7 separate regions of the Homo sapiens genome follow, and regions 1, 2, 4, 5, 6 and 7 are each linked to region 3. Evidence: fine-mapped expression QTL. A gene starts in region 3. Each other region holds a variant in brackets. All regions are shown on one strand. Distances are between the middles of the regions. Region 1 overlaps MICAL2 (microtubule associated monooxygenase, calponin and LIM domain containing 2). Region 2 overlaps MICAL2 (microtubule associated monooxygenase, calponin and LIM domain containing 2). Region 3 holds the start of MICAL2 (microtubule associated monooxygenase, calponin and LIM domain containing 2). Region 4 overlaps LINC02989 (long intergenic non-protein coding RNA 2989). Region 5 overlaps MICAL2 (microtubule associated monooxygenase, calponin and LIM domain containing 2). Region 6 overlaps MICAL2 (microtubule associated monooxygenase, calponin and LIM domain containing 2). Region 7 has its middle 16 kb from the start of LINC02989.

The links. PIP is the estimated chance that this variant, and not a neighbour inherited with it, causes the effect.
Region 1: its variant is the best candidate, but not a certain one, in a credible set for the expression of MICAL2 in whole blood (INTERVAL, PIP 0.62).
Region 2: its variant is the best candidate, but not a certain one, in a credible set for the expression of MICAL2 in fibroblasts (GTEx, PIP 0.86).
Region 4: its variant is the best candidate, but not a certain one, in a credible set for the expression of MICAL2 in fibroblasts (GTEx, PIP 0.88).
Region 5: its variant is the best candidate, but not a certain one, in a credible set for the expression of MICAL2 in aorta (GTEx, PIP 0.86).
Region 6: its variant is the best candidate, but not a certain one, in a credible set for the expression of MICAL2 in whole blood (TOPMed, PIP 0.69).
Region 7: its variant is the best candidate, but not a certain one, in a credible set for the expression of MICAL2 in skeletal muscle (GTEx, PIP 0.88).

Annotation. Positions count from the first base shown.
Region 1 is chr11:12,136,086-12,140,085 of GRCh38, forward strand. It overlaps MICAL2 (microtubule associated monooxygenase, calponin and LIM domain containing 2), which reads left to right. Exons shown (of 28, transcript NM_001282663.2): 2 at 2,305-2,375. Among named protein-coding and RNA genes, the nearest start is that of MIR6124, 26 kb to the right of the region's middle. RefSeq lists enhancers at 598-1,098, 2,829-3,372, 3,373-3,914. The variant CG/C (reference allele first, on the strand shown) is at 2,130.
Region 2 is chr11:12,205,670-12,209,669 of GRCh38, forward strand. It overlaps MICAL2 (microtubule associated monooxygenase, calponin and LIM domain containing 2), which reads left to right. Exons shown (of 28, transcript NM_001282663.2): 5 at 2,354-2,470; 6 at 3,828-3,929. Among named protein-coding and RNA genes, the nearest start is that of MIR6124, 44 kb to the left of the region's middle. The variant G/A (reference allele first, on the strand shown) is at 1,900.
Region 3 is chr11:12,108,375-12,112,374 of GRCh38, forward strand. It overlaps MICAL2 (microtubule associated monooxygenase, calponin and LIM domain containing 2), which reads left to right and starts at 2,216. Exons shown (of 28, transcript NM_001282663.2): 1 at 2,216-2,352. RefSeq lists a silencer at 1,910-2,579 and an enhancer at 2,122-2,825.
Region 4 is chr11:12,088,651-12,092,650 of GRCh38, forward strand. LINC02989 (long intergenic non-protein coding RNA 2989) reads left to right here. Exons shown (of 2, transcript NR_186297.1): 2 at 472-791. Among named protein-coding and RNA genes, the nearest start is that of LINC02989, 3.8 kb to the left of the region's middle. RefSeq lists a silencer at 3,572-3,866 and an enhancer at 3,759-4,000. The variant T/C (reference allele first, on the strand shown) is at 1,930.
Region 5 is chr11:12,228,362-12,232,361 of GRCh38, forward strand. All of the region lies in intron 15 of MICAL2 (microtubule associated monooxygenase, calponin and LIM domain containing 2), which reads left to right. Among named protein-coding and RNA genes, the nearest start is that of MIR6124, 67 kb to the left of the region's middle. The variant T/TC (reference allele first, on the strand shown) is at 2,353.
Region 6 is chr11:12,216,007-12,220,006 of GRCh38, forward strand. It overlaps MICAL2 (microtubule associated monooxygenase, calponin and LIM domain containing 2), which reads left to right. Exons shown (of 28, transcript NM_001282663.2): 8 at 213-313. The region is part of intron 2 of LOC124902634 (a long non-coding RNA gene); the gene reads right to left. Among named protein-coding and RNA genes, the nearest start is that of MIR6124, 54 kb to the left of the region's middle. RefSeq lists enhancers at 865-1,365, 1,366-1,866. The variant G/T (reference allele first, on the strand shown) is at 1,561.
Region 7 is chr11:12,069,141-12,073,140 of GRCh38, forward strand. No RefSeq gene overlaps it. Among named protein-coding and RNA genes, the nearest start is that of LINC02989, 16 kb to the right of the region's middle. The variant C/G (reference allele first, on the strand shown) is at 1,723.

The DNA of each region.
Region 1 (4,000 bases), 28 kb after region 3:
ACTTGGGCCTGTCATGTCCCACTCAATCTCACAGGAAACCTTCCCTGTATCACCCAAATCAGGCCCATGAGGGACCAGAGACCTCGTGCTTCTTTGCTTGGCACTGGCCTGATGGCAAGTCCAAGGAGAGACAGCATTTCTTCATTCTGGTTGATTACAAAGGAAAATATAGTGTCAGGGAGTGAGCATGGGCGTGGACTCAGGCCAGCTCCATCGGGAGTCCCAGAGCTGCTGTGGTCTCTGCTAATCGAGACTTTGGGTGAAGCACTTCGCTGTGCCATGCCTCAGTTTCCCCCTCTGTAATGATACCGTACTACCTGTCTTACAGGGTTGCTGGGAGGATTAGCTGAGGTAGCAGTGTTAACTACCCAAGGCAATACCTGTACACAGGTTAATCCCTCCCTCTTATAACAACTAAGTAGTTTTGTCGGTGTCTCTAAAAGTCAGGGTACCTGGAGGGGGGCAGCTGAATGGGGTCCTAGGTGAGGAAATCACCAATTGTATCAAGCTCCTCATTTTATGGATGAGGGAACAGAGGCCCTGACCCTCAAAGGCCAGAAGGTATTGGGCTCTAGGACCTTCTAATTTGTTGGTGTTACAGGGAGCTCAAGTGTATTTGGCTTGTTGGTCAGACAAAGGGTACGAGTTGGTCCTTTGAGTGGCTGGACACAGTGTGCCCAGGCCTCTGTGAGCATCTGACCAGTGGTCAGCCCTTGTAGCCTGGTCCAGTCATACCTGCCTCCAACCCACCATGAAGACAGCCTAAGCTGAACCTTAAAGAGCCCCGTGTCCCTGCTGCTGGTCTCCGTAATGCCCTAGGGTGGGTAGGGACTTCTGTTCCTGAGATCTAGAGAGCATGGCGGGGTCCCTGGCTTCTGAAACTCTGGTTGGACCAATGATGGAATTCTGTACCAGGATGTCCAGCTCCCCACCCACAGATCCCAGAAGCTTCCCTTGAGAAGCAGGGGGCAGACAAGTCAAGGCCTCTAGCCGCTTTGACTTCTGGCTGGAAGCAGCAGCACCGAGCCTGCAGCACAGGCTGATAGAATGTGGCCCAGGCAGGCCAGCCTGTTTGTCAGCTGGCACAAGCCCCGAGGGGTGTGGGCTTGGTAATGATGATGACGGGCGGGCAGGGCTGCCGCTTCTGCCCAGGTGGCCGCCCTTGGAGCTCGCCAGGCTCGCCCGGTGTGTGGGCCCACCAGGACTAAATCAGAGTTGATGTCCAGTACACCTTTCCCTCAGCTTGGTGGGAAAGACCATGAGCACAGGGGCAGCCAGTCCTGGGCTCCAATCCTGCCTTGCTGTAGGGGCTTGGCAAGTGCCATCTGTTCTGTAAGCCTCTGTTTGCTGTCTGTGAGGAGCCACTGAGATCAAGCAGGTCTAGTCTCCACCCATGACAGTACACAGCACTTCATAGGCTGTCTCCCATTAACGGGCTGAGAATTCTGAACAGTGAGTCCCATCTCCCAGCACTCTAACAATGTGTGCTCTTTGTGTGCTAGAGAGAGAGAGTGTGTGTGTGTGTGAGTGTGTGTGTGGGGGGCACCACTCTGTTGAACAAAGTGTGCGTATACCTCCCTGGAGTATGAATATTGCCTCTTATAGATGTCAAATTTCACACCTGTGTTAGTTTTTGTCCCTTTGAGGTTACCTCTTAAATATTTTGATTTATTTTTTAATGTGGAAGTAAATCATTAGAAATATTTTGTAACTCTGGGCTTCGTTTTCCAAACAGGTGTAGAGGCATTTTCTGCAGAAGCAATAGGATGTCATGAAATAATGTGGGTCGTCACTGGAAGCCAAGAGAAAAATTAGTTTAGGAAACTCAGCCATGATCAGCTGGTGCACTTTCATAACTCCCTAGTTTACTCAGTGTTAGAAAATGGGACCCGTTTCACACTGGGGACTTGTTATCCAGTTTTACACCTGCTTGATTTACTTTCATTGTGTCTCACACTTAAAAATTCTGACACTTTCTGTTTTTACTAAAGCAGCGAATAAAGCATTGTTTTCCGGATCCCTCCTACTCCTCAGCAAAGTCTTTGTGTAGAGATCTGATAAGCCCTTAGGGTGCCCTGACTGCAGCCAACAATAGAATTTGTTTAGCCATCTTGCTATTCCTTTCTTCA[CG/C]TGCAAAACTTGTTGGAGGCCAGGGAGAGATTCTCTGTCCATTTCCTCTTGCTGGGTGAAGTGTCCCACAAGGCAGAGTGCACAAGCATGCGTGACCTCTTGGAGGAGACTAGAAAGGAGGCATAAGCTACGATGATGTCACTGACATTAATTGTTGGGCTCTTGTTTTTAAAGGAACATGGCAACCCGTGTGTGTCTCATCCCAGAAAGAGAAGACTTTAACCACTGTGATGCCTGAGAATCCAGTGAGTAAGTCACAGTGGTGGATCTTGTTTACCGTGGAGTAGCTCCTGGGGGCTGGTCCTAGGCTTAGGAAAGTGTGGGATGTTCCCACCATCCTGGGGCAGCTTGCTGTGCCCAGGGCGCGCTGTTCCCTCTGAGTCAGCACCACCTCCTCTGCACTCCCCTAGCGCTGTGTTCTTGCCTCAGATACACCACTGAGTTAGGGTTTGTTCACCTGCTTGTCCCACCTACCGGCTGTGGGAGCCTCAAGGGCAAGGAACCAGACTCCCGCCTTCCTGTCTGAGCCAGGCAGCAATTCCCGGCAGGCACAGTACAAGGCACATCACAGGTGACCAACAGCTGTTTGTGGACTCAAGGAGTCTCATCCCTGAGGTTTGATCAGGGCTTTTATGGTCCACAAAGCTTCATCACAAACAGTGTCCTATGGGAACCTTTGTGCCCTGGGTGGGGTGGTCACATTATCCTTGTTTATTTTATAGACATGGAGGCTGGGGTCTGAGGAGTCAGATAGCCTGCCACAGGTGGTGGTAGGCTAATAAGTGCCCAGGACTCACGTTTTCTGTGTCCCAGGCTAGCCTGGTTTCTGTAACCTTATAATTAGAAAGGTTGTTTAGAGTAAACCCCTCATTGCCAAACAGGGAGACTGAGGCCTGGCCTGAAGATTCTTTCTCAAGGTGACAGGGCTCACTGGTGTCCAATGGAGAATGGAAACGCAGGCCCTGGACTTCCTGTCTGGCGTTTTGGCACCCCTCCTCCCTCCTCCTCTGCCCTGCTCCTGTATTCAGCAATCAGAGAACATTTTGGGACCATATATCTGTGTTTACAGGAGGGTGAAGAACTTACAGAAAGCCATGAGTCAGAGGGAACATAGGGATGAATAAAACCCTCCCTTCTCTCCGGGAGCTTTCCTGGACATGTGAGCCTTGGCAGGGCGTTGAAGAGGCTCAGTTTAGTTGTGGGAGGAGGGAGGATGAAGGTGAGGGTGAGGGGAGAGCATCAGGGCCCAATCCAAGATGCTGGGGCATGGGCGGAGGCTCCGGCGGAGGGGCAGCCGGCGTGCATGTCAGGGCATTTGGCAGCTGGCCTGGTGGGCGCTGAGGGATCACGTGGGGTGAGGAGTCCACGGGAGTCCTGAATGGCAGGATGACAAGGGGTTGACTGGACCTCAGGGAAAGCTGCTCCAGGAATTCTCATTCTTAGTATCTGGGGAAAGACCCAGGCAAAGAGCTGATTGGCCAGTCTGCCACAGCCTGAGAAACTGTCCCCTCTCTGGAGAAACAGAATACAGAGTTTGTCCACAGAGGAGGGTCAGGCAATGAACAGTGAATTCCAATGTTGTCTGAAATGTGTAGGGAGGGGAGTGTGAGCAATTCTGGCTGGCTCAATCCTATTGCCCTCAAATGAATTTTTGTTTTGTTCTGTTTCTGTTGAACACACGTGCTGTTCTTCTCTCTTCCCTTTGGAATCTTGGGTCCCTCCTGGCTCATCCATTCAATCCAGGCTTGACCCAGGGCCAGGTGGGTCCTGGCTACTCTTCTGTGTTTATTCTACCTTTTCTTGCAACTTCCTGGACTTGAGGACTGGGACTGACTGCCAGTTTCATCTCCATTGGCAGGGTGAAACATAA
Region 2 (4,000 bases), 97 kb after region 3:
TCAGTTTTATCTCCTGTAAAGTGTGATTAATTTCTGTCTCCTAGAATTGCTGAGAAGATTAAATGAGGTCAAGTTTGTAATGTGCTTTGCACTATGCCTAGCACATAGTAAGTGCCCAGGAAAACACATTGCATCCCATGCTGTACAGTGAGCAAGAAGCAGCCATCGTCCCCAGACTTCAGAATCCAGAGCTGCTTTCTCTGTAGGGGTAGGTGGGAGGAGGGCCCTGAGAGCCATGTTCTTATGAGGACAAGAATTGATGGGAAAAAGGAATGAGGCTTGGGCGGGAACAACTGGAGAGAATTATCAGTCACATAGGGTATAATTTATTCAGACACAGGAGAATTTACCAGCTGTGCCCCCAGAGTTTATTCACACTTTGAGATGAGAAAATTCCAGGAGTCCAGTGGAAATTTGGATTTACTCAGAAAGCTGCAGTGTCAGCTTTCAAGATGTGCTCTCCCGCCTATGGAAGAATGTATGTCGGTTACCAATTTAGAACCACTGTATTGAGCACCACTTTCTCATCAAGTTCTCTTGGGGGGCAGAACTGGGTACCAGGATGCCTTGTGGGGCCCTGGGCTGGTTGGGCTGGCTTCCTGGCCAGGAGCCCTTCTCTGCCCTCATTGATGGGGCTTTCATTGAACCCCTAGTCCTTGGAAATCCTGCAGCGTGCCGTAATGCCGGTGGGACTCTAGAAATAACATTGAGACAGGCAGAATGATCATTGTCAAGGGTAGCTCCAGTACTTGTGAGAAAGGAGGCAAGGAGAATTTATTGAGCACCTACTGTGTGCTGGAACCGTACTGAGTAGGAACCTCAGGACTATAAGGAAAGGCCAGGTCTCCCCTGGCAGGGTGGTTCATGGCAGGAGGTGGATTGGGCTCTTTAAGCTGATTGGCTTTGGATCACCCCAGCCACATCTCTAGCCTCAGCTGCACCATCATACTCAGCACTGCTCAGCAGTTCTCCATGTCTGTGTTAACTTCCTCCTCCAGTTCCCACTGTGGCCATTCCAAACCTCCAGCACGGTGACCTCATTCCTAGCAGATGGCCTCCCTCCTGTGTTCCTGTTCTAGGCCCGCTTTTCTCCCCTGCTGCCCCAGCACCCATTCCTTCCTCGTGTCTCATGCCAGATCACAGCTTATGCCTCCTTTCCAATTCCAATCCCTCTGGCTTCCTTCCTTCCTTTCTACCTGCCCCATCACTGAGTCTTCCTGCTCCTCCCCTCATGCCAGCCCTCCAGCCCTGTTGCTGCCCTGCCACTTTTCCTTGCCATAAGGTATTTATTCTAGAAAGAAGGGCGTAGACTTGGTCCATGCTTTCCATTCAAACCTTCTAACGTCGCAGTCTGCTGTCTTCCCCACCTGTGTGCTAAAGAGATTTTCAGCAGTGTCTCCAAAAGCTCCCAAACCCCCAAGTTTATTGGGCTCTTGTCACCTTCACAGCCCTTCCTCTCTCTGTGGGATTTGATATTCTTGGTCCCTCCTCTCTTGGCTTCCAGGACCCCCACTAAGGCCCTGTTCTACCACCATCACCCTCCCCCAACCACCATGTCTTGCCCCATTCTATTTACCTCTGTTCCCTCCATTAGAGGGTGTGTTCTGTATCTCCTGTGCCTAGCATGGCACCTGACATAGTATAGATGCTCAATAAATACTAAGTAAGTCAAACCCACCAAATACAGAAGGGCCCACAGAAAGTTTAAAACTTCTCACTCTACAGAAAAGTATTTGGAGGCATACGCATTTGTGCTGAATGGCAGGAGACAAAACAGAAATGAGATTCCACTCACTAGGGGAGTTTTGAAGTGTGGGTAAGAGATGGGGAACCATGACCCAGCTTTGTGGGGAAAATTTCCTACCCACTCCTCACCACTGGATGTCTAAGAGCTGAGGC[G/A]TAGGCCCCATGTAATGAGTCACTGATCACGGTCTTCACTGAGGCCCTTTACTCTTCATTTCATCAAACCCAGAGCCCAGCTGGGGAAGGAGGCTGGAAAGACAGAGCTTCTCTTGTTACAGCATCATCTAGCAGCTAGAACAGGGTCTAGAAATCAGACAGATGTGGGTCCATGTTCTAGCTTTGCTCTGTGTCGCCTTGAGCAAGTCATTTAACTTTGTTAAGCCTCAATTTCTCATCTACAGAATGAGAATAATAACGATTCCAAAGGGCCACTGTAAGAGTTAGATGAGAAAACACAGAGCTCTTGGTGCATAATCCCGCTCAGTAATGATCATTGTTGGTATACTGCTGTGCTCAAAGGTCACTGAGCGGCAGTGATTATGTAGCATTCTGCATATAGGTGGTGTTCAGGTATTGCTGTGACAGTTCCTCTCTCCTTCCTGCCTGACAGGTATTCGCCAACTACAGCTCATCCTATTCAAGGTGGCCCTGATGCTGGGAGTTGAAATCCATGTGAATGTGGAGTTCGTGAAGGTTCTAGAGCCTCCTGAAGATCAAGAAAATCAAAGTACAGTATAATTTTCTTTTTCTGCCTAGAAAGCAGATACTACAAAATAGAAATTCCACTTGCTGCTTCCAAAGGGTGTTTCTGTAGGAGTTATTCTTACTGGGAGCTGGTTGGCATAATGCCACTGAAGGGTATTTTACTGTTTTTTTTTTACCATTGCTATGACTTTAGGTTTGCTGTTTGGCTCCAAGGGGATTTATGATTAAGCCATTAAACCTGTAATTTGGTTACCCTGTCCCAAGGGGTTGCTACTTTGGCAAAGGAAATCTAATCAATAAATAGGACAGAAGACATAGATTTGGTTGTTTGGTAAGGTTCATTCACGTGTTCTTCAAGCTGTGTGTGTGTTTAACACATAGATGTGGTTGTACTTGTACCCATGGCACATTTTAAAATCCAGTAAAGTGAAGCTTCTAGAGCAACTGTGAAATAAGGTTCAAGATGTTATTTGGTATATAATACTCTTAACCATGTTGAGGTATCATTTATAAACTATGATATTTGCCCGTATAGGCATATCATAATGTTTCTCTTTTTTCCTTTTAGCATGTTTGTTTAAATTCTTATCCCTTACACACACCATGGTCAGAGAGTTTATTCAGGATGCCTCTGCATCTTACTTATTATTAAAAGTATCTACCGCCTGGGAAGGGCTTTGAGTTTGGGACCAGCTTAGTGTCAGAGACCTTGTGGTTTCCTGCTTAGGGTACATTTCTGATTTCTCCTGTCCTCTGCCCAGATTATTTGAGAATTTAGGGGAGGCTTTAGTTAGCTTTTGGAGCAGGACAGCATTCACTATTTGGCATTCAGAGACTGTGTACTCTTAACCTTTTCCAGACCTCTAGTGGACATTAAATCTTAATTAGCCAGGCTTCACCTGATTTTTTTTTTTAAATAAAAGACAGTGTAGTGTACAACAGAACATTTTGAGCATACAATAGAAATTAAAAGTGGTTTCCTTACACCCTACATATCCTTTTGGGTCTGTTTAGCAATGAGAGGCACTGAAGAATGTGGGAGAATGTGAAGAGAAGATGGTGGACTTTGTTGAGAATGATAAGATGCAAATGAGAGTAGTTTATGGAGCATTGAGGATAGACTCCTAGCGGAGGCCAACAAAACCAGGCATGGAGTTGGTGTTGCTGGTTTACTTCATCCTGGATTGAACTGACACTCAGGTCAGAGGACACCAGATTAGAGAGTGAATCTGGACTGCTCTAGCCTTTCCCCTGGAGGCTCTCTCTGTGATACACAGACCTGGCTGCACTGTCCATTTCTCATAGCCACCACACGGGGGGTATAATCATTCTCTTCCCACCTCTCTCTGCCAACTCATCTCATTTCTCTGTCCTGGTAGAAATTGGCTGGCGGGCAGAATTTCTCCCTACAGACCATTCTCTGTCGGAGTTTGAGTTTGACGTCATCATTGGTGCCGATGGCCGCAGGAACACCCTGGAAGGTGAAGACTCTTCTTCTTGGTGTGGGAATGGGGGGATGGGAATGGGAGAGGGTACATTGGGGAAGAGTTGG
Region 3 (4,000 bases):
AAAAAAAAAAAGAGTAATAAAGAATACAGCTCCCAAAGCACTGTGGTCTTCTTCTTCTTCTTCCTCTTCTTCCTTTTTTTTTTTTTTTTGAGATGGAGTCTCGCTGTACGAGCAATTCTCCTGCCTCAGCCCCCTGAGTAGCTGGGATTATAGGCATGTGCCATGATGCCCAGATGATTTTTTGTGTTTTTTAGTAGAAACGGGGTTTCACCATATTGGCCAGGCTGGTCTTGAACTCCTGACCTCAGGTGATCTGCCCACCTCAGCCTCCCAAGTGCTGGGATTACAGGCCTGAGCCACCATGTCTGGACAGCATTGTGTACTTCTGATTATTCATCTGTTGCATTATAAGTTACATGAGTGCAGGAACCACATTTGGTTCGGAGTAGGGTTTGTTAAATGAATGAATGACTCTGTCTCCATCTCTATCCACCACATGGGTGTCTCAGGTCCAGGCCAATAGCAAGAGGCTTTATGTCCAGTGTAGTTAAGGTGGGGACAGATGTAACACTGCTTCCTGAAGCTCCTCACTGCCTTGGGTTTCCTGTATCACTCTTCTAAATAAGGTAGGGCCAGGCCAGTGGAGTCTCCTCTCCCTTACAGTGCCCTGGCCTGAGCTTGACAGACTGTTTGGATGGACTGGGAGTGGGTCAGGCCTAGAGCAGCTCTTTCAGGGTTAGACTTGACCTGTCAAGTACCCTAGAGGCATGGGCAGTGCTGTAGAGGCCCCAGCACATAGTGTTTAGGCATGTAGATTCTGGAACCAGATCTGGCTCAAATCCGGACTCTGATACTTACTAACCATGTGATGTTGACCAGTTGCTTTACCTCACTGGTCTCAGTTTCCACATCTGTGAAATGGGATGATGATACAATACATACCTGTCAAGCCAGGCTTAGATGAGATCACGTGTGAAGGGCACTCCCCAGGCTGGCATCACAGGCAGATTTCCATCAGAGTGGAGTGCTGGCCCTCTGAGAGTACAAGCTGACTGGGCCTTGCAAACTGGGTAGGAACAGCTTTTGCTGGAAAGTTCATCTACAGGAAGTTGATTGAATTCTGAAGAGAGAGCTAAGAGAGCTGCCAGGTAGGACAATACCTGGTAAACACCAAAGGGCTGAGAGTAGGATCACATGGCAAGAAGTAGAGTAGAGAAAAAATAATAATAATCTGCAGGTTTGGGGAGGCAAACTGTTCTGTTTGCACTTGTCTGGCAAGGGAACATGGTGTCTCCTGGAGGTGGTCTTGTGCTGGGGAAATTCCAGCAGCCTGGAGCCACAATACTGTTTCTCACTGCTCAAGCCTGCCTGTTTTCCTCTGCCTAGGTAGCTCAGTTCCAAGAACACTTATTGATGCTTACACCGGGCCAAGCCCTGTGATGGGCCCTGGGTTCCAGAGGTGAGTCAGACATGGTTCCTGCCCATGGAGATCCCCATTTCATGATAACTGCTACAAGAGCCGTTTAAACACAAGGTGTTTTACAGTAGTTATAGTCTACAGAGTGCTTCTGATTGCTCACTAGGCCCCACTCCATTCACACTGTGTTGTCTGTGAATGTTGCTCTCTGGAGCTGTGGGGGGTAAGGGTAACCCGGGAAGGTGGGCAGAGCAGAGATTAAGATAGGGATATGACAGCCAAAGGTAGAGGGTGTTTAGGTGATCTGACCAAGGTAACACAGGTAGTCTGCACCACCGCCCCCTTCCCACTAGCTTTAGCCAAGCAAGGCCAGGTGAGGGGAAGATCCTATTAGCTAGCAAGGAGGTTTGCGGAAGCTCAGGGTGGTCAAGGAGCCGAGCAAAGAGGGAGGTCCACAGGACGTACACAGTCGGTACTAGAAGTGCCATGCTGCTCCCCCATGTCCAAAAGGGGATGCCGTGTCTTGCTTTCCAGCCGCCTAGACCAAGAAGCGTGAGGCCCAGGCCCTCGCCGCTCCCTTGATACCCGCTTACCAACACCGGGGGTTTCATCTCGCAGCGCCACCACGCCCCACTCCCAGCAGCCCTCCCCTGGTCTCCGCCCTGTGCGGGTCAGGGTGGGAGCGCCCGGCCACTCCCTGCGTTCTGGGCCGGGCTACAGCCCACGTGCGCCGGCGGCAGCGGCGGTGACAGCCGGCCCCACGGGGGCGGGGCGGGCTCCGTGCTGTCCTGTCATTGGCCGCGCCGCTGTCGGGGGCGTTCCCCAGCCCGGTCCACCGCGCGGCGCAGAACCGCAGGCGCTCGGCTGGCTAAGCCTGCGCCGGGCCGCCTCGCTCGCTCCCAGCTCTGTCAGTGGCCCGCGGGGCCCGATCGCTGCGCCCGCGGCCAGGGCCGAGGCAGGCCTGACCCGGGGCCGGGCAGCCCGCGCGACTTTCGGTAAGGCGGGGGCGGCGCTGGCCTCAGGGTGGGGAGGGCGGGCGGGCGCGGGTGGGGACCGTGCCAGCCTCGGCTGGACTCTGCGCCGTGTCCAACGCCCGGGAGGGTCAGGTGCGGCCGCAGCATCCCCCGCCTCAAACCCACCCGGCGGGGCGCACAGTGAGCAGGTGGCGCTGCGACGAAGCCCGGGGCGGCCCTGGCCGGCCTCTGAACCAATTAGAACGCAATAAAAGCCTCCCACCGGCACGCCGAACTACCTCTTACTCCGCTCCGCAACACCCAAACCCTGCAGTTCCAAGCCTAGAAAATCGCAAGCGCCAAAACGGGGTGGGAGTGACGCGCCTGCAGTGCTGCCTGTCACCTGGCAGAAGACCATCCCCAAACTTCCCAGGATTGGGGCTCCGAGCCTTGCACGCCCCGTTCCAGCTCTTCACTGGGCGCCCTTTTCCCCCTCCCCTGTCCCCTCCCTCTTTAGTAACAGGAAGTTAAGTTGGGCCAAATGTCAGTGGCCTGGCTGGCCGCGGGCTGGAGCCCAGTCGGGATGGGGTCGTGGCAGTGGTCCGAGGGGCCGCGGCACTGTCCGCTCTGCATCGCGTCTCCCGCATCCCCAGTAGCCCGCTCTCGCTCCAGGCCCAGGAGCACCCCCGCAGGGTGTCCGCGGCACCCACCCTGTAGGTGCCTGGCTGGCCCCGGGGAGAGGTGGGATCTTGCCCACAGCGTCTAAGCCGCTGCCGGGCCAGACGGGGCAGGTGGGGTAAATTGTATTCACCGCCAGCCTCACTGGCAGAGCTGGGAACGGCCTTTACTGGATGGGGATGAGGGGATGTGGAAACCAGAGTAGTGTGCCTCCTTCCACATTGTTTATTCTGAGGCCTGGGTTCTTAAAGCGGAAAGAGCTTTTATTTGGAAGCCTGTAGGGCCCCGCCAGGCCTACAGCAGTGTGCCGGCTCTCTTGCTGTGATTGTCGCCTGTTAACTACAGTCTACAATGATTTTGGTGAAGGATGAAGTCACCAGCCAGGCCCCTTGTGGGCTGGTCCCACGGGAGAAAAGCCAGAGGCGAATTGGCCCTCCAGTGTTTGTGCCAGGTTCCCTGACACCTGCACTTACTCTGTCCTGCTCCCCCTCCCCAGTGGCAGTCGACCCAACAAGTGGGCCTCCGGTCTCCAGGGTAGTCCTGTGCAATGCCCTGGAGACTCTAATACCGTAAGAACTCACTTTCTTCATGCAGAGAGAAGACGGACTTATTAAGTGCCTACTGGGCAACAGGTCCTGTCTTGTGGCACTTTTGCAGCCAATTTCATGGTTATTCCAAAAACGCTGAGAGTTTTGCCCTCCCCATTTTAGAGATGGGGAAAGAGGCTCAGGTATGGTAGGTGCCCAAGGTCACACAACAAGTGTCTGAGCCAGGTCCTGGCCCTGTCAGTGTGAGTCCAGTGCTCTTGTTTCATGGCTGTGGGAAGTGGTGTGCTGTGTGCAGGACCATGGCCCCACAGCGTGCTGACTAGAGCCTTCCAGCCTCTGAAAAGATGCTCTCCACCAGGATTTCAGGGGATGCTTCTTTGGCAAAACAGTTGAAGTGACCCAGGTTAGCCAAGTTGTTCAACCTGCAAACCCCTTATCCTCCCCCTAGTCAAGAGTAGTGGATA
Region 4 (4,000 bases), 20 kb before region 3:
GGGGCTTTCAGATGATTAGTCAGATGTCGGCTAGGGCTGCAGGTATCCGAAAGGTTCAGCTTGAGTGGGTGCCTGGGATGGCTCACCCAGGTGGCTGGCACTGGATGCCAGCTCTCATGCTGGACTCAACTGGGCTGTTGACTGCACATGACCTCTGCATGGGCAAGGGCTTTTCACACCGGGGTGCTGGGTTCCACGAGGCAGGAAGAGGATGCTGCTAGGCCAGGTAAGAGTTGTGGCAGCACTGGCACGGCATCACTTTCTTTCTATTCTATTGGTCAAAACAATCACAGCATCGACCCTTGGAAACATAGATGTCACATCTTGATAGGGAAATGGCAAGGTCACATTTCAAAAGAGAAGATAGGATGGGAGATATTGTTGCGGCCATCTTTGGGAAATACAATCTGCCACAGTTGCATAGCATTATTGAAGCAATGAGTAACACAGACAGACATTTTTATTTTCCAGGTCTCCATCTTCCTTGCAGCACTGCTTTCTGTCCAGCCTCCCTGCATACCCACTTCATCACACAGGGAATGGCAAACACTGAGCTGCTGGGGGAAAGGCCTGCAGGGCCCTTCTGAGCTTTGTCGCCAGCTCTGGGGTCAGCAGGAAAGAATGCAGTGACTGACCAGTGATCACTGCCTCAAGGACCACGAGAAGAGGGGAAAGCCCTGGTATGAATGAGCTTGTACCCTTCACCTCGCTGCGTCTTGGTTTCCTCTTTTACATTTTTCTAAGGATTCTTCAGTATGGATATGAGGAAATATAATTGTCTAATTTCATTAGAGAGTGGATCCAGGCAATGCAAGCCGAGTGCTTTGCCAGTACTAGGTGCGGTGGAGGAAAAAATTAGATTATTCACAGGTTCAAATTGAGATTCTCACCTTATTACTCACACAGAGAGACTAAAGGTATCAATTTCTGCTCTCCCCAGCCAGGCCTACCCACAGGAGCTAGAGATATTCAACTGCCTTATTTAGCTTCACCCAGGCCCAGGAGCTGCTGAAATTAGACCTGGCCTGGTAGTGGGAACCCCATCTGGGCAGTGGGAGAGAAAGGGTTAAGATCTGTGATCATCGCATGTTCTTACTCATAAGTGGAAGCCAAACAATGGGAACACATGGACACAGGGAGGGGAACAACACACACTGGGGCCTGTGGCAGGGCAGGGGGAAGGAGAGCATCAGGTCAAATAGCTAATGCATGCTGGGCTTAATACCTAGGTGATGGGTTGATAGGTGTAGCAAACCACCACGGCACATGTTTACCTATGTAGCAAACCTGCACATTCTGCACATGTATCCTGGAACTTAAAGTAAAACTAAAAAATGTTTAAAATAATTAAAAAGAAAAAGATCTGCGTTTATGACCCAAGGTTCCTGAGAAGGCTCCCTGCCTTGGGCCTCCACCTCTGTTCTCAGCTCCAGCCTTTCCCCAGCCCAATCTGGGTAACTGAGCTTCTGCCCCAGGTTTTCCAGTGAGCAAGAAGTCCCCTTAACCCCATTCAGCTGGGATTCTATGGTCTTGCCAACTTCCCCTATCATTTTTCCTTTTAGACCACGCCCTATTCCTGAATCCAAAACCACTTCCTGCTTCAAAGAGGAAGTTCCTTCAGAAGCCAGATGCTGTTACCCACCTGAAAACAAGTATCTTTGGCAAAAGCCAGAGACTCCTCCTGTCAGAGCCCTGCCCACCTGCCTGAGAGCCCCTGCCAGGTCAGCAGCCAGTATGTTAACCCCCCTGAGGGCCCTAGGCCCCCGCTACTCCTGTCCCGGCAGGTCTCAGAGCTGAGCCCAGAGGGTCACGACAGGAAGAAGGCAGATGCCTTCCATACTGACTAGGTTTTTGGCTTGCTTTGCACCAACATCCTGTCTGCCCTGTTTCCTACTGAGGGCAAACTGGACTGGTTTTTAATTAAACCCA[T/C]TCCCCCAGAGAGCTTGGGGGAGAGATAGCCTCATAGAATTCCTTCAGTAGTTATCAGAAGGAGACCCCGTGGAGGCAGAGGTTGCAGTGAGCAGAGATCGTGCCACTGCACTCCGGCCTAGGCAACAGAGTAAGACTCCGTCTAAAAAAAAAAAGAAAAAAGAAGGAGCCAGGGTGGGGGGTGGGAACAGGAGAGAGGGAGGGGGGAAAGTGAAGTCACAAGTCCAGAGTGGTTCCTTCCTGGCTGAGCTAATGCCCTAGCAATGCACCTTATGTAATGGGCAACTCACCTGAGCGTCTGAGCCCATAGGAGTGCCAGCCCCTCCCTGTGGTGCCTCCCCTGCAGGGCCCACAGCCACACCCTCAGTGCACACACTCTCCTTCCTATCCATCCACTGATACCTGGGGATGACCTTTGAACGATGTCCAGCAAATCAAGCAAATTAAAGGCAATCACATCCACTGTAATACATCTGCTTGGTAGAACATTTGAACAGAGAAAACATTCCCCAGAGCTCCACCCCTAGAGATAGTTTTTCTTTTATTTTTTTCACCCAGGTTGGAGTGCAGTGGTGCAATCTTGGCTCACTACAACCTCTGCCTCCCAGGCTCAAGCAGTTCTCCCACTTCAGCCTCTCGAGTAGCTGTGACAACAGGTGCATACCACCACACCCGGCTAATTTTTTGTATTTTTGGCAGAGACGAAGTTTTGCCATATTGCCCAGGCTGGTCTCAAATTCCTGAGCTCAGGTCATCCACCTGCCTTAGCCTCCCAAAATGCTGGGATTACAGGTGTGAGCCACAACACCCGGACTTCTAGAGATAGTTTCTATATTCTAGAGATGTTTTTATTTTTATTTATGTTTAACCAAATTAAACTCTTCAGTTCTTCTTTCTGGTGCTTCCTTTGGTCTTTAGCTGAGTCCCTCTCCAAAACTAGAGGCCATAGGGTTGCTGTGGCTTTTCCATCCCCATCATAAAGGGTAGTGCTCCCTCAGTGATTGGTTTCAGGATTCTCCCCAATACAAATCAGGCCTCCAAGAACCATGTCCCCTTCAGAGAGGATTCCTAAGCTTCCTCCTCTTCCTCCTCTTCTTACTGCAAGGGAAATACAAGATCAGTCTGGAATGGGCTTCCAGATTCATACAACCTCCCCCAGGACACAGATTCCGGGAGAGAGAAGAGGAAGGCAGGTTTGGAGCCTCCACCACCACCAGTTTCCCTCACGCCCTCCTCTCTCCCTTCCCCTCTTTCTCAACTTCCTCCTTTCCCTCTCTTCCTTCTATGATCTGTCCCTGCCCCTCTGTCTCCTCTTCCTTTCCTTCCTTCCTCCCTTTTCTCCTCCCTTCCTTAGCAGGCAGCAATGAGCAGGTGGCACTGAACTTAGATTCCACCATCACAGGTGGGTAGATCTTGGCTCACAAGCCTGTCATTGACTAGCTAAGTAGCCCTGATTGGAGGAGTCATTTTATTTCCCTGAGCCTTTGTTTCTCATCTGCAACATGGAGATTTTACTCACCACCGTGGTGCAGACAAAGTAGGACAAAGTATCCTTTAACCCAGGGCTTGACACGTGACACTCATCAAACATTGCTGAGCTCTAATCTGCATCAGGATATGGTAAGTGTCTACTGGGTGCTGGGACAAAAGGTACAGATGGGAGCAAGGCAGAGATCCCTAAACAGACCTCTGTTGTGATCTTTGTTGTAATACATGGTAATTATTTGTTTCCAAAAAGAGGTGGAAGGAGACATAGATAGCTTCTACCGCCAGGCATTCAGGCACCAGCTGTGAAGGCCTTCTGCACATTGAAAAACTCAGAGTAGCCTGGTGGCTGGAATGAAAAGTCAACACCAGTTCCCCCAGCAAAATATTTCTCCATTCAGCCTTTTCGGCTCATTGGTTTGCCTGAAATCAGTTGTTTCTCCCTGGGGAAGCAATCTTTAAAATGGTGAGGAGAGTGTGCATCTGATGTGCCTGCACTTGTGCCTGTGAAACAGGGTAGGCTCAGAGCTCCGTGCAGGCCCATGAAGTCCCCTCAGAGACACCAGTGTTGGGTTGTCATAGGGTC
Region 5 (4,000 bases), 120 kb after region 3:
CTAGGTGCCTTGGCCAGGTCACCTGCTACTCCGTTGTACTTCATTACTTTGCCCCTACCCCATGCTTCCTTCACACTAATTAATCAACTCATTGAAAGGCATTTGTTGTGTATCCAGTTATAGGACATACAGAAGTAATGTGAGCCTTGACCTTGGAGTCCAGTTAGGAAGATAGATGCTGGGAAGATAGGGAGAAAACTGAGAACCAAGAGTCCGAACCTTGGGGAACAAGGGAGTTTGAGGCGCTGGCAGAGGCAGAGCAGCCAGGAAAGAAGATGGGAAGGGGAACAGGCAGTTGGAAAGTCAGAGAGGGAGTCGGGAAGCCCACGGAGGAGAGCGCTTCTACGGGATGGGCCCTGGAGACCATGCCAGGCGACAGGGAAGCCAGCCAGGGTCGGGGCTGAGGACAGGCTATGGGATTTGGATGTGTTGGGGCGGATGGCAAATGTCAGAGTTCTAGGACTGGAGTGGGGAGTTCCTGGGGTGGTCAGTGGGAGCAGAGGAGAGAAGATGGGTGGAGGAGAATAGGACCAGAGTGAAGCCACTGGTGGGAGCAGGGGTGGCTTGGGGTAGGGGCAGTTGTAAGTACCTGCCCAGAGCTTGCCTGCCCTCTCCAGGATGGCAGGGTGCCCTCCACCAACAGGACAGTGGGCTGGAAGCCTCTGCAAGTTTCTGAGTCTCTCTAGGTGGCCAAGAGTCTATTTAAGCTTGGCCAAGGCAGCCATACCTAGCAGGGTGGGATGGGGCCACCCAGCCTCCTTTCCCTGGGCTGTGTGAGCAGTGGTCACTTTTTCCACTGAGGCCTGAACTCCCTGCTCCCTGGGATGCTGCAGCGGCTGTTTTGCCAACCCCAGGAGCAGGATACTTCATGCTTCTGTGGCTCCCTATCTCTAGGAAGGAATGGGCTAGCAAGGCCTTAGCTGGGCAAGGAAGATGGCAACAGAGCAGTTAAAATGATGAGCTGCACCCAGCCTCTCTCCCACTCTGAGCCGGCCCAACCTAGAGGCTCTGTGTGAGGGCTGCATTGTCCGCCATGTTCCCACTGAGTAAATGGGGCTGTCTTCTGGGTACCAGCGGTCAGCTTGTTCTACCTCCAGCCCAAGGACCCCTGTCTTGGGCTGTTTGGCCCCAGGCAAGCCAGTCAGTGTTTCTGGAAGCTCTCCGAGACAGACATTTACTGCCTTTCTCCATTCACCGCGTTTCTGCCACTTGGCCCTCAGAGGGAACTGGAGAGGGATGTTTCCACCTTTCACTCACCACACCTCTATTTACAGAGTGACAGAATTGAAACAGCCTGGCCAGCACTGGCTTGGGAGCTGGGGATGGTTAAAAGTCAGGAATCAGCAAGGTTAGCCAGGCCTCCCAAGGGCTGAGGGCCTCACTCCACTTCCCTCTGGCTCTGCTAGAAAATGCTTGTGGTAGAGGGCTCTGCCCAGCCCAATTCTGGCCCCTTTTGAATCTTGTTCAGTCTTCTTCAGGGTGTGTCCCTTGGCTGCCCATTTTGAGAGGAGTCAAGGCCCACAGATCTGTCCTCTCCCACAGCCTCATTTAATCCTTGCACTCTACCCCATCTTTGGATAGGTAGAGATATTTGGCCATTGAGTTAAGTGCCTGGCATGGGCATTGTTTGTTCTCTCAGAGCGATGGAGCACTTCCTGTGGGTGGGTTAGGTTGTTTCGTAAGGCTACTGGGTCACCACACTGTGCCTTGGCCATCACTGAAATACCTCTGCATTCTGTCTACCACTCAATGCCAGCACAGTGATCAGGGCCACGTAGAAAGTACCTTCTTCCCATCCTACCAGATACCTTGTTGTATCTGAATGCTTTTTTGATTTGGGGAACCGAATGGCAATGCTCTTTGACCTCAACATTTCCCATTAGCAAAGAACAGTGAGTCCACCTCGGTCTGGTCCTGCACAGCCACAGGGGATGTCTGCACGTAAGACTCTGAAATCCATACACAATTACACATCTGTACATAAAGGCTCCCTCACATTTACACCAAGATATCAGTACAACAAAACACGCAACCCTCAATGACCTTGCTCATCAGCCCTTCTGGAGTGGAGATACAGGGCAGGCATGCTTGCACGAGTCTATACAATAGCCCTCCCCACAAACACAGACAATATCTGTACATACAGGTGCATCCGTATTTGACCTTCCTCCCTGCCCCTCCCTAACTTCCTCTCTGTCTTCCAGAGGAATATATTGATATGGGAATTGAGCTGTGAGTGCACATTTATTTACAATGTGGCATCTTCATCTGAAGAGGATCTGCTGGTTCTCTGCTGAGTCAGGCTTAAGAACCTCCCTCCCTGATTTTCACTGACGATGTTAAATTCTTCTT[T/TC]CCCCCCCCATCTTATTTTCCTGATAACATGCAATCCAAGCAAGATGTATCAACTTCAAGCAAAATGAAAGGCTTTTTCTCCATCAAGGATCTCATTTACTTTTAAAGAGAGTAACTTTTCCATTCCCACCATGAGTGGTAACCCAGTGGGTTGATTAGTTCTGAAAACTGGGCAGCCCATGCCTGGAAAGAGGAGAGCTTGGGGAGTATATTTTCCTCTTAAAAGGCCCTTGGTCTGCTTCTGCAGATCTGTCTGTGGTCCTGGTGAGGATCTAAAAGCCTCATGGCATGGGACAGTTCCTGGGGGCTCCAGGGCTCTTGTCATCATGCATGTAGGTGACACCTGGACATATAACCAGGGCGTCTATCATGCCTGTGTGCATGGGCACACACACAGACATACACCCTCAGACTCACAATACCTACCAGTACTCTCCTAGACCTGCCACACATGGTGACACCTGTACTTATGGCCACTACGGTCATTACTGTACACATATGCAGAACACCAATTTTTGTCCCATTCTGAGCCCACTCCTTGGGGGATAAAACAGAAGTTGTTACTTGTCCCTGGAGAGCTCATCCCAGAAGCCAGATGGGTAGCCCCAGGTTTGATCCTGCTCAACCAGGTCCTCCTCCTCCTCCAGCACTGGTCCCTGACAGAGTGGCATTCACAAAATGTGACTGACATTTTTGTCAGTGTGTGGTCTGAGTGGTCCAGGTCCCCCTCCCCAACCCTCCTCTTCCTGAGCCACCTGCACACTTTCCGAAGAGCCGGGTGGCATTACGTGCGAAGGTGCCTCTTCCTTCCATCTACTCATTCAACAACTGTTTCTTGAGTGCCTATTTTATGTGGAGTTCTCCTCAGTACTGGGGATGGAGCAGTGAACGAAACAAGCGAGGACCCTGCGTAGGCAGCTTACCTTCTAGTGGGACTTACGAACTTCCTCTCACCTCACTTCCCCAACTTCTCTCACAGAACCACACGCCCAGCAGCCAAAGCTCCCCACTAGGTTTCCAGGACTTCTCATGGCAGAGGTTTGAAGAAGGCTTAGGGGAGTCAAGAGTGCCGCTTTCCAAGGCTGGGCCAGCACAGGGCCCTGGAGTATCCCCTCCAGGTGCGCGCAGGTCATGGCTGAAGCTACTCTCTCTCCTTTCCTCAGCGCAATCTCAGTCCAGGATTCAGAGCTGATTTACAGATTGGGAATGCAGTTAGAAGTCAAGCAGACAAACACAGATTTACGTCTGCTGGGGGTCTGGCAAATGTTCTAGCCTCTCAGAAATCTCCTTTGCTTGTCTGAAAAATGAGGGTAACAACATGTACACCATTGTATTGCTGCAAAGATGAGGTGATCAAATGCGTGTGGCAGGTCTGAGCACGATGTCTGGCAGGTGGAAGGTGCTTAGTAAATGATAGTTCTTTTCCTTTAGAAATGATGATTAAATGAAGATGCTTGTTTTCTCAAAAGATGAGTAAAATGATCTGGCTTGAACACTTGGTTCTGTACTGCAACCACAATCAATACAGCCCTTTGCAGCATACAAAACACTTTCACATACATCTCATTTGCTCCTCATGTCACCTTTGGAGGAAGGCTGGGAACATATTTTCATGCCAGTTTTTAGATGAGGAAACTTGGACTTGGGG
Region 6 (4,000 bases), 110 kb after region 3:
GCCGCTATAGAACTATAGAAGCTAGCTGCTTTGACTTGGGTAGATTCTGGCACTCTGTTTTATCTTTGCCAGCCTTGTGTGCCTTAAAAACTGGTCTAACATGAATATTCTGCAGATAAATAACAAGACCAATAGTGAGGCAAAGTACAGTTCCTGGCACACAGTTGGTGCCGAGGAAGTAACACTGAGCTTGTGAATGCTTCTCTTTTCAGGCATAGATCTTGAGAACATTGTTTACTACAAGGACTGCACCCACTATTTTGTAATGACAGCCAAGAAGCAGAGCCTGCTCGACAAAGGTGTCATCATTAACGTACGTACCTCTTGGCTGCGATTTCCCGACTTCGCGACCTGGGCTGGTGACATCAGCAGGTGTGAAGGCAGATGTCGTCCTGCCAGAAACTGAGCGAGGGGAGGAGGGGGGAAGGTGCCACCAGCTTACACCCTTCTTTTTCTTGGTGTTACATGAGTATTGGATAAAGGAGCCCACGCCAATATGCACAGAGAATTTTCTGCAGAGGGACGTGTGCTGCTGTGAGACCTTTACCAGGTGTTAATGTGGATCAACTGAGTCTTTTCCTTCCCAAGTCTCATCCAGCCTTGCCTCTTCTCTGGGAGGTCACATGTCATTTGGAGGCAGATGGGGGCTCCTTGTCCTAATGAGACATAGGCATCCTTTGACTTGTGAATTTCATGCTGTGGAGCCTTGTCACAGTGTGGGGGAATTTCATTATTCATGCAGTCAAAAAGACTCGATCTGCATCTTGACTCTGCCACATACCTCCTCCAGACTGTGGGCAAACTGTGTATCCTTCCTGAACCTCAGTCTTCTTATCTACAAAATAGGAATGATAGTTTCTGCCTGAAAGGGTTCTTGGAAGGAGCAAACAGAAGATATATATAGAGCACCTGGCACAGTGCCCGGCAGAGGGTGGGTTTGTAGATTCCCTCTGTAACTTCTCAGCCTTGTTTGCACACTGGCTTTTTTGTCCTGCTGGCTTCCTGGCCTCTGCTTCGTGGCCTTGCGACTTCATGCTTAAGCACGGAGCAGGGTTGGAAGGAAGAAACATGGAGTAGTGGCCCCTGACTGGAAGCTTCTTCGGACAGGTGTACAACCCTTCCAGAGCCCCTGTAGTTGCTGCCACTGTCACTGCTGCTGCTGCAACCTCAAGATAAGGATCACACTGCCCAAGTTCAGCCTGCTGTCTGGGTGTCAGCCTGGAGCCCAGGCAGCACGGTGGCCATTCATTGCTGCTTGTCAGAGAAGAATGCAGCTATCTTCTTTCCTGCGTGTGCTGGCAGCCGTCTGGGTGGCATTAGTAACCCAGCCACCCCGTGGGCCTTCTCCACTTCAGCTCAGGTCTTTGCTGAGAGCCTGAGTTGTAGACGGAGGCTGTGAATGCGGGCTTGGTGAAGTGGGCTGAGCACGCCAGCAGATGGGTGGGCGATGGGCTTCAGCAGTGTCCCACTGCTGACTGTCAGTCTGGGAGTGGTGGCGTCCCCTTCTTCCCTCTGCCTCACAGAAGTTGCCTCCTGAAGTTGCCGCCTTAGTCTGAAACT[G/T]GGGGGTGCAGGGGTGTAGGGGTAGCGGGCAGCTTTGCAGAGGAGAGGTTAGGCAGGCAGGCAAAGCTTGATGGGTTTTGTGTTTTGCAGAGCACCGTGGCCTCCTGGGATGCTAAGGTCACCCTCAGGTCATCCCAGGTGTTTGCTCATGGCAACTCGCTTCCCTGGCGGTTGTCAAAGCCCCTCCAGGCCCATGCTTGTCTTCACCAAGGCCTTTCTTTCTCCTTCAGAGGCCCCTGGGAGCAGCTCCTGAGCTGGTGCTGAGGAGCCTCAAGGTACAAGATGGGAAAGAAATTGGAGGCCACAGGCTGGACACCTGATTGGAACAAGAGCTATAGCCTGAGCGTCCAGGTGTCCAGCCAAGTTCCCAACCCATCTTCCCTGAGCCGCTTAAATTTACATTGTTCTCTTGCTCCCTGGAGGAATGGCAAGTTTTCTGTTTTCCTCTCCCTACATGGATCCATATCTTCCTATAGCCACACAGAAGGTGCCAAGTAAATGTTTGTTGAATGAATGACTGACCTCTGGACAAGAGGTTTTCCTGCTTCCCCATTGATTCCAGCTGATCTCTGGGCTTCTTTCCATGGCTACCGAAGGAAGAGTAAAGTTTCTCTTCAAGCAGCCGTGCCTCTGGGCTCTCAGCTGTGCCCATCTTTCTCTTCCCCACAGGGAGGATGTCCCATCCCAGAGCCTCCCTGGGCCCCTGCCTCTGCTGGCCCATACGTGTGTGGGCTGGGATTCTGTCCTCCTGTCCTTGTCCTCATCTGCTCCCTATGGTTTTGCTCCTTCTTCCATCCCCCCACTCATCTGGGACCCTCCAGCCACTAAGAGACTCCACAGCAGCCCTAGGCCAGCTCTAGCCTAGTGTCTTCCCTTTGCTAGGTCCCCACTCTCCTGCATGAGGCGTCCACGCCAGGCACTGTCTTCACTGTGTAATGTCACCCACTCCATCTTAGGGATGCTTGGGTCATATTTTGAAGGGGGGGTGTTTGAGACCTCTCCCTTCTCTCTTCCCCCATCTCACCTCCACGCCTTCGGAGAGAGAAGTGATCATGTGACCGCGGAAACAGGGATCAGAAAGGAAATCAAATAACAGGAATTCCATCCTGGACACTGGGGCCTGACAAAGAGCTCTTGGACCAGTGCTGGATGCAATTTGGGCGGTTTGGTTTGAATGGGGGAAATATGAGTTTCCAGAACAGGGTATTTGAAATCATGGCTACTCAGAAAATTGAGGCAGTGGTCACTCTGGCTGTAAATGCGGCACTCTGTGATTGTCAAGACCTTTGTAATTGAGGGTGCCTTGGCTGGGTCCAGGATATACTTCATCATAAGCCATATCTGGAGCCAGCATGAATTACAGGGGACAGGAATTCCCATTCATCGGTCACTTCCCACATGGGGCTAGGGATTTCGTGTGTACACTCATTCCATCTTCTCATGTGGCTCTGTGAAGTAGGTTTTGATATTCCCTTTTTACAGATGAGAGAGTGGAGACTCTGAAAAGTTAAATAACTGGCCCAGATTTAGTTAGTAAACAGCAGAGGTGGACTTTGACCCGTTGCTCTCACTGGCCCCAAAGCCTGTGTTCATGTTACACACTGGTCCCCTCCCACTCCAGGTGTCTGTACTTTTTGTGTCACCTTTGAGAAAGGTGGTCTTTTAGTTTCTTTAGCCACACGGTGAGCAGCTTGGACTCTGGGGATACACTAAACTTGCCAGCTCTCTTCAATCCTCACATCCTGTGTTTCATTGCTAGTGTCCCTCCAGGATGGATATTCCAGTCCTCGCAGCTCAGGGCTCTGCACTCCCCATGAAAGAAGCATAACAATTAGCACCAAAAGCAAGCTACTGGGGAGGCTGAGGCAGGAGAATTGCTTGAACCTGGGAGGCGGAGGTTGCAGTGAGCCAAAATCACACCATTGCTCTCTAACCTGGGAGACAAGAGCGAAACTCCATCTCAAAAAAAAAAAAAAAAAAAAAAAAAAAGCTACGCTGTGAGAGCCCTCGGCCCATCAAGTAAAGGGGTCACTGATTTTGGAAAGTGTGAGAGGTTTCCCATTTTCTTTTTCTGGTCTTGTTTGACCACTAAACATGGCATATTTGGATCATACTCGCTTAGCTGAATTTATTATAAAATCACACTTTCTGATGGCTCCTTTGTCTCTTAATTGTACTGAAAGTTCTCATGAGAACCAGACCTATGAAATGTGCTCGTTGTTTGCTCCAAGACCATTATCAAGTGCACTGTTCATTACAACTCTCAACGCGCCCTGTTGAAATTCCTACGTGAGACAGATCTTTTAGAATTTAATGCCAGGGAAAAATTGCCTCCCCTGAGGAATTTCTACGCTTCCTTCTTTCTGATAAGGAGAGCTCTGGGGCATATCACATTTCCCTTTTGCCTTGGATGCCAGGAAGCTCAATGCCAAATTTGATG
Region 7 (4,000 bases), 39 kb before region 3:
GCACAGTGCTCCTTTTGGCTCCAGGTGCAGAACCCAAGTGTACAACAGGAAGATCCCTGCTCCGCCTCCTGGGAGGGGTGTTCCTCCCAGGAGGAAACCATGTGGAGGGGTTTGATAAACTAGCAGGCGGCCAGCAGGGAAGGGTAGGTGTCGCATCTGGTATCCATCAGCCACTGCTCTGTCCCGGGTCCCAGGTAGCCTCCAATCTCTGAAGAGGGCCCTGAGCCCTGAACTGGCAGGTGTTTGTTTATCAGAGATTTCTGGATGATCTTGCAGGTGACAGGGAGGAGCAATGATTACGTACGTCCCCTGCTTGACAATCGTTCCATTCATTCATCTGCCCATTCCCTTGCCCAGCCGACACGTGCTCTGGGGCCCATGTAGCCAGGCCCTGCGCCGCGTTCCTCTCTCCTCTTTCCCTCTTCTTGCTGCTCCACCTCCCTTCACAAAGGAATTTATGTAGACTTTCAAATAAAACATTCAGCCATAAAAAACTAAATGCCCAAGAACACTCAATTATGCAAAAATGCTGCTTAATTTTCATGAAAAAATTTTAAATAAGAAAGTACCCAAATGAGAGTTTTGTAGAAACATCCACATCAATTTCTGGCTGAATAAAATACCCCGAGTCATTTCTTATTGAAAGTCTACGCACTTCAGTATCATTTGGAAAAATAATCACGGCTTACATATTTCATAGTGGAGAGTTGAGAGGGCAGGGATTCGGGTGACAACTTTATTAAAGAAAAGGACAAAGTGGGTTTCGTTATCCATGGAATCCTGCTTGGGCCGCTGGGATTCAGATAAGTGTCAGTGTCACTTAGAAAGGTGACTTAGGATTATATACTGTCACAAAACAAGTAACAAAATTTAAAAGGCTGGTTGTTTGGGGGCCTTATGAAGACACGTATCTGTTGTCTTAATGATGAGAGAAGCCCCATTCTATGGATGTGGCTGGGCAATTATGTGGGGTGCCTGCTCTGATGGCCACTTCTACCACCATCAAACCCCTGGCATCTAGAACTCTGAGCATCACCATCCACTACTGCCCATCCGGTTCACAAATGGCAGGGCCCACAACACAGAGGTAAAGTCAACATTTTATTTGGAGATGTTTACTGCTGCTACTAATTGAAACCCACCATCAGAGCATCAGACCTATAATGGACATTCTTGGGGACCATAGCCCACCCACTTATCAGCCCTCACCAGTTTTTGGATCCCAGTTTAGGTGCAAATCTCTTTGTGCCTCAGTCTCCTCACTTCTAACATGGGTAATTGCACAAGGATTAGCTCTGGGAATCTCATAGCAGCTGCTGTTGTGTAAACAATAAGAGGTTCAGAGTGTTCTGAGGAGTCTCCTGATGTTCCAGAAGGTCTGTGTCATTGAGTCTACGAAATATGAGGACCAAAGGGCCTCCGAAGATGGGAACACATTGTCCCCTGCCACGCTGGTGTGCACGCTGTGTACCCTGGCTCTGCGGCTCCCTCAGACATCTCACTCACCCCCAGCCAAGGTTGGTTGTTCTAAACCCCCCACCTTCAGAACATTTATAGCTTTAATTGTGACATGAGGGCCACAGTGCCTCCCCACTCTGGCCTATTTCTGTCAGATCCAAGTTAAGAGGGGGTGACCTGACACTCGTGGCGTGTGCAGCCTGAAGGGAGCAGCTGGAGCCTCTGGCAGCTGTCTGAGCACATGGGCGTTGGCTCCGGGCAGTG[C/G]GGGCTCGAATCCCAGCTCCGCCATGAATGGCCATGTGCTCTTGGGGCTGACTTCTCTAATCTTGCTGAGGCTCAATTCTCCATCTCTAAATCAGGGGTTAAAAGCACCTACCACACACACAGTGTTGCTGTTCAAAGTGAAATATGTGCAATGGGCATAGTGTGCTGCTTGGCACAAAATAGGTGCTTGGTTAATGGGAGTGGCCTTCCTCCCCACCAGCTTCCTTCGTGGTGCAGCAGACACTCGGCAGGTGTGAGCTGCCCAGGCCAGTCTGGGAGAAGTGGTTTCTCCTGCAGTCCTGGGCTCCACAGTGGGGCCAGTTCTCAGACTTGCCTTGCTTGGCCATTGGCAGGACTTCCAGAACCTTCTACTGTTTCTGGCAGTGGATGGAACAGGGGCTCCTCAGGATGGAACAGGGGCTCCTCAGAACTCGCCTTCCACCCAGTCCCTGTACCAATGCTGATCCCTGCCTTGAAGTGACTGCTCTGGGGTCCCAGGCTCTCCCCAGCCTCTCTTTCCACGTCTGTATGTACCAGCGCTGGGGGGGGCCCAGACTCTGATGAACAACTGTAGGAATCTCAGCTCTTAACTCTAGCCAGACACATGATCATCTAGTTGTAAGGCCCTTTGGTCATTTGCTTATAAGGACCATTTTGGAGAATATATGACATTTCCAAGAACACAGGGAATGTTTCTGCCCACCCCTCCCCAAGCACCCCCGACCCTACCTCTTTCTCTCCCTCTCTCTTGCATCTTGGCCCACATAATCCCTAACTCCAGGTGCTTGACCACTGGGCTCATATCTTGTTGTTCTTGCTTGCCTTGTTTGGTTTCATTTTTCCTGCAGGTTTTTGGGTAAATCATCTTTGATCCTTTTGAAAGTAAACAATGAGTAAATAAATCTGAGTGGAAGCTCTCTCAAACATTAACTCCTGTTGCGCAGTTAACTAGTTTCTGTGTTGACCTCAGAATTGAGCTTTTCTAACAATCTGTTTATTGAAGAGTTTCTGGAGCTTACAAGTTAAAAAAATGCTTGTTACCATGTGCGGTTACTAATGTATGTTCATCAGAACTCCTTCAATACTGTGTAAGCAGTCAATACAAAACACAGAGATAAATCAGGTGCAGAGGGCGGACTACAGCTGAGTAGCAGAATCCCTGATTTCATTTTGTTGTTGGTCAAGGAAACTTCTTGTTCACATAGAGTTTATGTCATAGACCAACTTATTGTGAAAGTAAGCAAATGCTATATTTACTTACAAAATTTAGTACCATATAACTTTTATGAAGTATGTTTATGCAAATTCTTTTTTTTTTTTTTTTTTAGAAACAGTCTTGCTCTGTTGCCAGGCTGGAGTACAGTGGCACGATCTTGGCTCACTGCAATCTCCACCTCCCAGGTTCAAGCGATTCTCCTGCCTCAGACTCCTGAATAGCTGGGACTACAGGCATGTGCCACCACATCCGGCTAATTTTTTGTATTTTTTTAGTAGAGATGTGGTTTCACCATGTTGGCCAGGATGGTCTCAATCTCCTGACCTCATGATCCACCCGCCTTGGCCTCCCAAAGTGCTGGGATTGCAGGCATGAGCCACTGTGCCCGGCCTGCAAATTCTTTTAAAGTACACTTTTATAGTTGTATAATGCCAGTGTAGACTAACCTCTGTAACAACCAACCTTCAAATGTCAATGTCTTAATATCTTACTTTCGTATCAAAATACAAAGTGAGTCAGCAGGGAGACTGTTCCAGTGTCATTCAGGGACCCTGACTTCTTCCATCCTGTGGTTCTACCTTACCCTGGGTACTCTTCACTCAACTTATGGATGGGCAAAGGGAAGCGTTCATCTGAGGTGGTCGTGTGAGTCTGTGTGAGCCTGCAAGCACTGCCCATCTCTTACACCCACACCCCATTGGCCAGAACTCTGTTCTCTGATAAACAGTGGCATCGTTGTTGTGCTTGACCACAAGAAAAGGAATTGTGTGTCCAGGAAAGAGAGAAGATGCATGTAGCTGAGGAGTGGCAGTTTCGGCTGTAAATATATAACCTCACCCAAGGGGGTGCTTCACCTAAAAACTTGCAGTAGGCAGAATGATGGTGTCCCCAGTGACGTCCACGTCCTCATCCCAGAATCTGTGACTATGTCACCTTACATGCACAAGGACCTTGCAGATGGGATTAAGCTGAGAATCCTGAGATGGGGATGTTTTCCTGGATAATCTGGGCAGGCCCAGTATCATCACAAAGGTCCTTAGAAGTGGAAGAGGGAGGCAGGAG